2 linked regions of the Homo sapiens genome follow. The protein of the gene in region 1 purifies or fractionates together with the protein of each later gene. This does not show direct contact. Each region holds a gene or a part of one and is shown in the gene's direction. Other genes may lie near its edges.

Region 1 (3,920 bases):
AAAAGCAGTCATCGATAATACGTAAATGAACGAACATGGCTGTATTCCATAGACCTTATTTATGGGCTGCAGGACAGATTTGGTCCAGGGGCTGTAGTTTGCCAGTTCATGCTCTATATCAAGCTTGTCCAACCCACAGCCTGCATGCAGCCCAAGATGGCTTTGATTGTGACCCAATGCAAATTCATAAACTTTCTTAAAACATTATGAGATTTTTTTGCAATTTTTTTTTTTAAAGCTGATTAGCTATCTTTAGTGTTAGTGTATTTTATGTGTGGCCCAAAACAATTCTTCCAGTGTGGCCCAGGGAAGCCAAAGGATTGAATACCCCTGCTCTAGATGGTCATCTTTCCTGTATCACGGCACATCCAAATCTTTTTCTAGGCTCCTTACCCCAGTAAATACAGCTCTGTGCATGCACATGTTTGTGGATTCAAAGCCCCTGGAGGCATCAGTGAGTTCTGCAGAGACAGGCAAATTCAGGCAAACTGCTGTATTTTTTATTCTTTTCATCTTAGGCTTAAGGCATACTCATTTGACTCAAGTTAAAATTATAGTTCCTATTTGTAAAAGCCGTATTTATTACTACAGACTTAACAGGGTGTAATATACAATAATCTGATAAGAAATTGGAAGTCTTTAAAGAACTATAGATTGCATATTTCAGAGCCACCTGTGGCGTGAAAGTTCCAGCCTCAGTAATGACCTCAAGTCAGGCATACTAAAGCAGAAGAACCAAAAATACATCCCATTTTCTGAGGTATAAAAGCTGGAAGGATTTTTTTCATGGAATGTTTCCTCACTATCCTTTTAGGCTCTGCGGATACTATAAGGAGAAGGGTGTGTAGACTTTATCACTAAAAACGAAGTCCTGTCGCCACCCTTGTAATGATTTTGTAAGTGAAAGTCCTTAAGTCTGTTTTTCAGAGAACATGCTCTATGGTTTTAGTCCTTTTAAATTTATTGAGATTTGTTTTATTCTAATATGTGGTCTGTCTGGATGAGTGTCCCATGTGTGCTTGAAAAAATGTATATTCTTTTGCTGAATGGAATATTCTGTAAATGAGAATTAGGCAAAGTCGATTGATAATGTTCAAGTCTTACATAGTGTTACTGATTTTTTTCTACCCTTCTATTATTTACTAAGAGGAGTATTGAAATCTCCATCTATCCTTGCTAATTTGTCTTTCTTCTTTTAGTTCTCTCAGTGTTTGCTTCATGTATTTTGGAGCTCTGTTACTACTGGTGCATATACATTTCTAATTGTTTTATCTCCCTGCCTGATTTATTCTTTTATTATGAAATGACTTCCTTTGACTCTAGTAATCCTCTGTCAATCTGTCTTTGTATTTAAAGTGGAGCTCCTACACAGCACATAGTTGGATCTTGATTTTTATCTAACCCAGTCTCTGTCTCTGACTTTTTTTTTTTGAGACGGAGTTTTACTCTTGTTGCCCAGGCTGGAAGTGCAATGGCGCAATCTCGGCTCACCGCAACCTCCACCTCCCAGGTTCAAGTGATTCTCCTGCCTCAGCCTCCCGAGTAGCTGGGATTAGAGGCATGCGCCTCTAAACCACGCCCGGCTAATTTAATTTTATATTTTTTTAGTAGAGAAGGGGTTTCTTTTTTTTTTTTTTCTCCTTTTGAGACAGAGTTTCACTCTTGTTGCCCATGCTGGAGTGCAATGGCATGATCTCAGCTCACCGCAACCTCTGCCTCCCGGGTCCCGGTTCAAGCAGTTCTCCTACCTCAGCCTCTTGGGTAGCTGGGATTACAGGCATGCGCCACCACACCCAGCTAATTTTTGTATTTTTAGTAGAGACGGGGTTTCACCACGTTGGCCAGGCTGGTCTCGAACTCCTGACCTCGTGATCCGCCTGCCTCAGCCTCCCAAAGTGCTCGGATTACAGGCATGAGCCACCATGCCTGGCGAGACGGGGTTTCTCCATGTTGGTCAGGCTGGTCTCGAACTCCCAACCTCAAGTGATCCACCTGCCTTGGCCTCCCAGTTGCTGGGATTACAGGTTGTGAGCCACTGCGCCCAGCTTCGGTCTCTGACTTTTAAGTGTTTAGTTCATTTACCTTTAATGTAAGTGTTGGATTGCTTGATGTTGTCCTTATCTCTGCCTCTAAAACTATGTTCTTGTTTTTTCCCCCAACCTTGTTTCTCTCTAATCTTTGCATTAGATAATTTCTTTTCCTTTTTTTTTTTGAGATAGGGTCTCGCTCTGACACCTCGGCTGGAGTGGTGCAGTGGTGCAGTGGCGTGATGATCTTGGCTCACTGAAACCTCTGCCTCCCAGGCTCAAGTGATCATCCCACCTCAGCCTCCAGAGTAGCTGGGACTACAGGTGCTCCCCACCAATGCCTGGCTAATATTTGTATTTTTTGTAGAGACAGGGTTTTGCCATTTTGCCCAGGCTGGTTTCAAACTCCTGAGCTCAAGCAGCTGCCTGCCTCAGTCTCCCAAAGTGCTGGGATTATAGGCATGAACCACTGGGCTTGACCTAAATTAGATAATTTCTGTTCTGTCTTCAAGGTTATAAATTTTTTTCTTTTGCCATCTCACCTCTGCTATTGAACTGGGCTAGTAAATTTTGCTTATTGTACACTTCAGCTTTAGAATTTCCTTTTTTTTCTTTTTCCTTTTTTTTTTTTTTTTTTTTTTTTTTTTGAGACAGTCTCACTCTGTCGTCAGGCTGGAGTGCAGTGGCACGATCTGGGCTCACTGCAGCCACCGACTCCCGGGTTCAAGTGATTCTTCTGCCTCAGCCTCCTGAGTAGCTGGGACTACAGGTGTGTGCCACCATGCCCAGCTAATTTTTGTATTTTTAGTAGAGATGAGGTTTCACCATGTTGGCCAGGATGGTCTCGATCTCTTGACCTCGTGATCCGCCCGCCTCGGCCTCCCAAAGTGAAAGTACTGGGATTACAGGCGTGAGCCACCACACTGGGCCTGGTTCTTTTTTAGAGTAAATTTCCTTTTCGAGATTCCTTATTTATTTACTTATACTATATTTGTAAAAAAATCTTTGGACATATTCATAACAGCTGCTTTGAAGTCTTTACCAAATCCAACACTTAGGACCACTTGGATTCAGCTTCTGTTGATTGCTTTTTTCCCCTAAATATGAATCACGCTTTCCTGTTTCTTTTCATATCTAGTAATTTTTTTAACTGAAACCTAGATGTGTAGATAATATGTAGTAGTAACTCCTGAATGTTTTGTTTCTAGAAACTGCTTTATTCTCTGAAAAGTATAGGTTTTCTTGTTTTAGTAGGCAGTTAACTTGCCTATACTCAAACTATAAACTCTGTCTCATGTGATGTGTGGCAGCTAATGTCTGCTCAGTTTTTTCAGCTTTGCTGCTTTTTTAGTCCTGGAGGTTTACCCTGTGCCTTTGTAATATAGTGGTCACTCAGGGATTTGGGAAGTTAATTCTCAGATTTTGGGGTTCATCCTTTCTGTGGTTCTGTTGCTTCTGGAGTTCCTCCTCTAAGTTTCCAGTTGCTCTGCCATCTCCCCACGTTTTACCCCAGCACCTAAAGATGGTAAGACTTCGCTTTCTCCACCCTGGGCTTTGTGCGTGCTGTGTGCTCAAAGGTGAAGCAGATTTGCAGATTTCACCAGGAGTAATCGTTACTTAGTTTCAACTTCTGTAAAATAGGGATAGTTCCTAGGATTAGTGTGAGGATTAAATGGGATAATACAAATACGACACAACACAAATACCCAACAAAATTAGCTTTTCATTTCTACTTTGTTAATATTTTGTTGGTAGGAGTGGTGGTGATGATGATTTGGAGGTTCTTAGATCCATAAAATGAGGTGTGGGTTAATCTGTGAGGTGGGCAAAGGGAGGAAAAAAGCAGATGTTGGCAGTTACTGTTAACAGGAAATACAGTGAAGGAAAGTAAAT
Region 2 (3,920 bases), on another chromosome or scaffold:
TATTAACAGTCTAGGTTTTTTTTTTCTTTTTTTTTTAAATTCCAGACTAAGCAGCCGATAGTTTTAGAAAAGAGAATATGTAGGTTATTAGTGCAGATACGGAGCACCCTTGTTTTTTTACAAGCTAAATATAATTGAATATTCAAAGGACTCTGTGCCTTGAATTGTTAACTGAAGTGTCTGTGTACCTTATTTTACTTAGAGAAATTACTAGTTTAGTTAGTCTTGTTATGTAGATTTACATAATTCTAGTCAATCTTGCATGTTATGATGTTCAACATCAAGATTTTCTTTAGTCTTATTTTAAGATGTTAGCCTTTTTTATATTAAAAAATCCGAATTTGAGCATTCAGCTTACCTGATAAAAGTATAAAATATTATATCACAAAGTTATAACTAGCTTTCCTTTTAAATAATACAAGTGACTTTCAAATCTTTACATAGGTTTATTGTTAAGAAAAAAAATCAATGTTGCTTTTACCATTGACCTAGTTAATTAATATATTAGAAACCTGTGTTGTTTTTCTAGTTCACATCTTAATTGCATAACCCCATTGTTCTAATTTAAATACGTTTGTATGGGTTATGGGGCATCTAGGACAGTATTTTAATGTTCATAGAAATTCATTTCTAAGACTTAACAGATCCTGGTTTCAACCCTGCGTGAGGACCTTGGAAAAACGATGGATAAACCTTATGTGTTTTTCACCTATTAGGTACAGATTTTAAAGAAATTAATATTCAACATATGAAGTATACATAAAAAGAAGCAGCTTTGTTCTAGAATGTGGCAAGGATTCAGCAGTGATTTTAAGTGTAAATCGTGTTTATTCTCAGTATTTATTTGATTTTCATGTGCTTTTGAAACATAAGTTCTTGTGAAAATAAGAAGAGTTAACTTGGTGTTCAGAGTTTACTTACTAGACACAGTTATGTATATTTCTTTGCTTTTCTTAACTTGAGGCATGCGGTCATTACTAATAGGTGAAAGGTTACAAACATACTAGGTGTAATTTGAAAAACAGTATTTTATGTATCCTCACTTGTTTTTAAAACACTATATATTAAACCATAGGTACTTTCTGACTTTTATACTTTCATCAAAGTCTGCCCTAACCTTCTAAAAGTTCAGACTGAGATTTTACAAGGAAATACTTTTTAGATATTTCTTGCTTTTTACATGTAGAGACTAAAATCTTTCTGGAGCAGATTATTTTCATGATGGTATAGAGCACCAAACTGTCCTTAATTTTCTTTTTCATTAACAATTTCAATTCTTAAATCTGTTGTGCCTCATTAAGCTTTAGGGTTATTAATAGGGAAATGTCAAGACTTAAAGCAACAGTTAATCTTGCTTTAAATCCTATTTTTTTTAATCCTAAGTGATTAAAATCCCCATCTTCTTTTCAAGGGGTTATTATGAAGTTAGAAGAGTGATTTTTAAAAATCAGAGCTGTTATTTAAGAAGTGTTGTGTTCGTATATACACTACCATTTTTCCCAGGTTAACATTCAGATTTGTTCTTTTGGCTCAAATACAAAAAAGTAATCAAGTTTAGGCACTGCTTAGATTTGGTGGTGGTTTTTGTCAGCCATTTAAAAATGTGATAGATTTTTAAATTTGGATTTTGTCATCTGAATAAGTATTTCGCTCTGACAGCAGTATACTTGCTAGAACCTAAGTATTTTCAAGTTAAGAGTTTTAAGTTGAAACATAATTGGTACCAACAAATCACTGTGTCTCACATTTCTGTTTTTTTCTACTAAAATTTTATTTTTATTTTAATTTTTCAGAAAAAGACATCAGTTAATTTGAGCAGATGCTAGTCTTTGTATTTAACTAAATACATGTAAGTTTTAATTAAACAACCTTATCCATGCCAAGGAAGAGGTATATACATATTAATGTTTTAGTAAGAGCTATATCTTCTGCATGTATGAAGTGATAGGTCTAAAGTAGGCAGAACAAGGTGAATTCACAAGCTAAATGGGACTTTTTGAAAGATGTAGATTTAAACATTATGATTTATGTTATAATAGTCTCTTTAAGGAAAATTTAGATTAAATTCTGCTTAGATTTTTATTCCTTGTCGCTCACTCTTTGGTACTCAGTGCACTTCCTCATCTGCTTCCAACTGTACTTACAGCCCCCAAGCCCTTGGATTGCATACACACACGCACACACACACACACACACACACACACCCCAAATGTATGTTGAGGACTGCTATATACATATGAGTCTCCTGCAACACTGAGTACAGTCTGATATGAAGTGTCAATCAATAATTGATTGATTACTTTATGTCATGAAAGGTGGTTTAGGCACCAACAGTATAATAACTGATCTGTGTAAGTGAATGCCCTTGTGTAGTGTCAAGGGCAAGAGCTAGTGTCCAGGGCAGGAAGCATGGGGTTCTGATTTCGTCCAGATGTAGTCTACTCTCTTAAAGTCCCGTGACCTCATTTTCCTCAACAATAAAATCTTGGGCCTAGTTGGATTAGTTGATCTCTAAGAGACTGTCCAGTTGCATGATTCCTGGGGCTACTTAAAAAATATCTCAAACACATCTCCTTTTCGAAGGTTGTGGAAAGGCTTTTTTCAGCCGAAAATGTAAGAATTTTCAGATACTTGGAGTGATAGAATGTGAGTTTTGAAGATTTATTAACCGTAGTTTATCGTGATAGGTTTAAAGTCATCTATATTTTTTATATGCCTGAATTTTAAACTTAAAATTTTCTTCATTGGCTGTGCTACCTTTGCCAGTAAAAGTAAACAATTTTGGGGAGGGGTTTAGGCTTAAAGGAAGGTAAGTGTAATATTACTGAGAATAAAAATTATTTTTAGGCTTAAAATGAAGGTAAGTGTAATATTACTGAGAAAATTTTTTTTATTAGTTTTATGAGCTCATGTTTCTTTGAGAGAAGATAGCCTTCAGGAGAGCCATTGAATTGAGTGATAGGGGGTCAACATTAAAAATATAAGTGGGTCAGCATTAAAAATACAGCTCTAGCCCTTTGTCAAGTTTTCCTCTAGCTTTTTTTTTTTTTTTTTTAAAGACAGTCTCGCTCTGTCAGGCTGGAGTGCAGTGGCACAGTCTTGGCTCAACTACATCCTCCGTCTCCCGGGCTCAAGGAATTCTCCTGCCTCAGCCTCCTGTGTAGCTGGGATTACGTGTGCCACCATGCCCAGCTAATTTTTGTATATTTAGTAGAGATGAGGTTTCACCATGTTGGCAAGGCTGGTCTCGACTCGAACTCCTGACTTCAGGGAATCCGCCTGCCTCGGCCTCCCGAAGTGCTCGGATTACAGACACGAGCCACTGCTCCTGGCCTCCTCTAGTTTTTTTTTTTTTTTGGTACAGGTATGCATGTATTTATGACAAACACATGGTATAGATACATATACGAAGATATTTATTGAAGCATTGCTTATGATTACGAAAGATTGGATTATTTGATCTCTAAAAGTCCATGAGTAAGAAATGATTTAAGAAATTATGGCATAATGTTAAGCTAAATTTAATAACCCCTGCTGTAGGGAACAAAACATTTTCTACTAGTTCAGGTTCAAGAAAGCGATTGTTAAGCCACCTCATGTTTTGGGAATAGTCATGAACCTAAAAAAGCTACAGAGGGCCAGGCATGGTGGCTGATGCCTGTAATCCCAGCACTTTGGGAGGCCAAGGCAGGTGGATCACGAGGTTAGGAGATCAAGACCATCCTGCCTAACACGGTGAAACCCTGTCTCTACTAAAAATACAAAAAATTAGCTGGGCATGATGGTAGGCACCCGTAATCTTAGGTGCTTGGAAGGCTGAGGCAGGAGAATCACTTGAACCCGGGAGGCGGAGGTTGCAGTGAGCCGAGATCATGCCACTGCACTCCAGCCTGGGCAACAGAGCGAGACTCCACCTCAAA

What was found.
Region 2: the proteins of FBXO45 (region 1) and CDH2 purify together in Homo sapiens (affinity purification with mass spectrometry; 2 studies listed by BioGRID and IntAct, with this or other methods). This does not show direct contact.

Annotation. Positions count from the first base shown.
Region 1 is NC_000003.12:196,578,578-196,582,497, forward strand, and holds part of FBXO45 (F-box/SPRY domain-containing protein 1), read left to right. Parts: intron 1-3,920. UniProt on the Homo sapiens protein: Component of E3 ubiquitin ligase complex consisting of FBXO45, MYCBP2 and SKP1. Functions in substrate recognition but also plays an important role in assembly of the complex.
Region 2 is NC_000018.10:28,170,361-28,174,280, reverse strand, and holds part of CDH2 (cadherin-2 isoform 1 preproprotein), read left to right. Parts: intron 1-3,920. UniProt on the Homo sapiens protein: Calcium-dependent cell adhesion protein; preferentially mediates homotypic cell-cell adhesion by dimerization with a CDH2 chain from another cell. Cadherins may thus contribute to the sorting of heterogeneous cell types.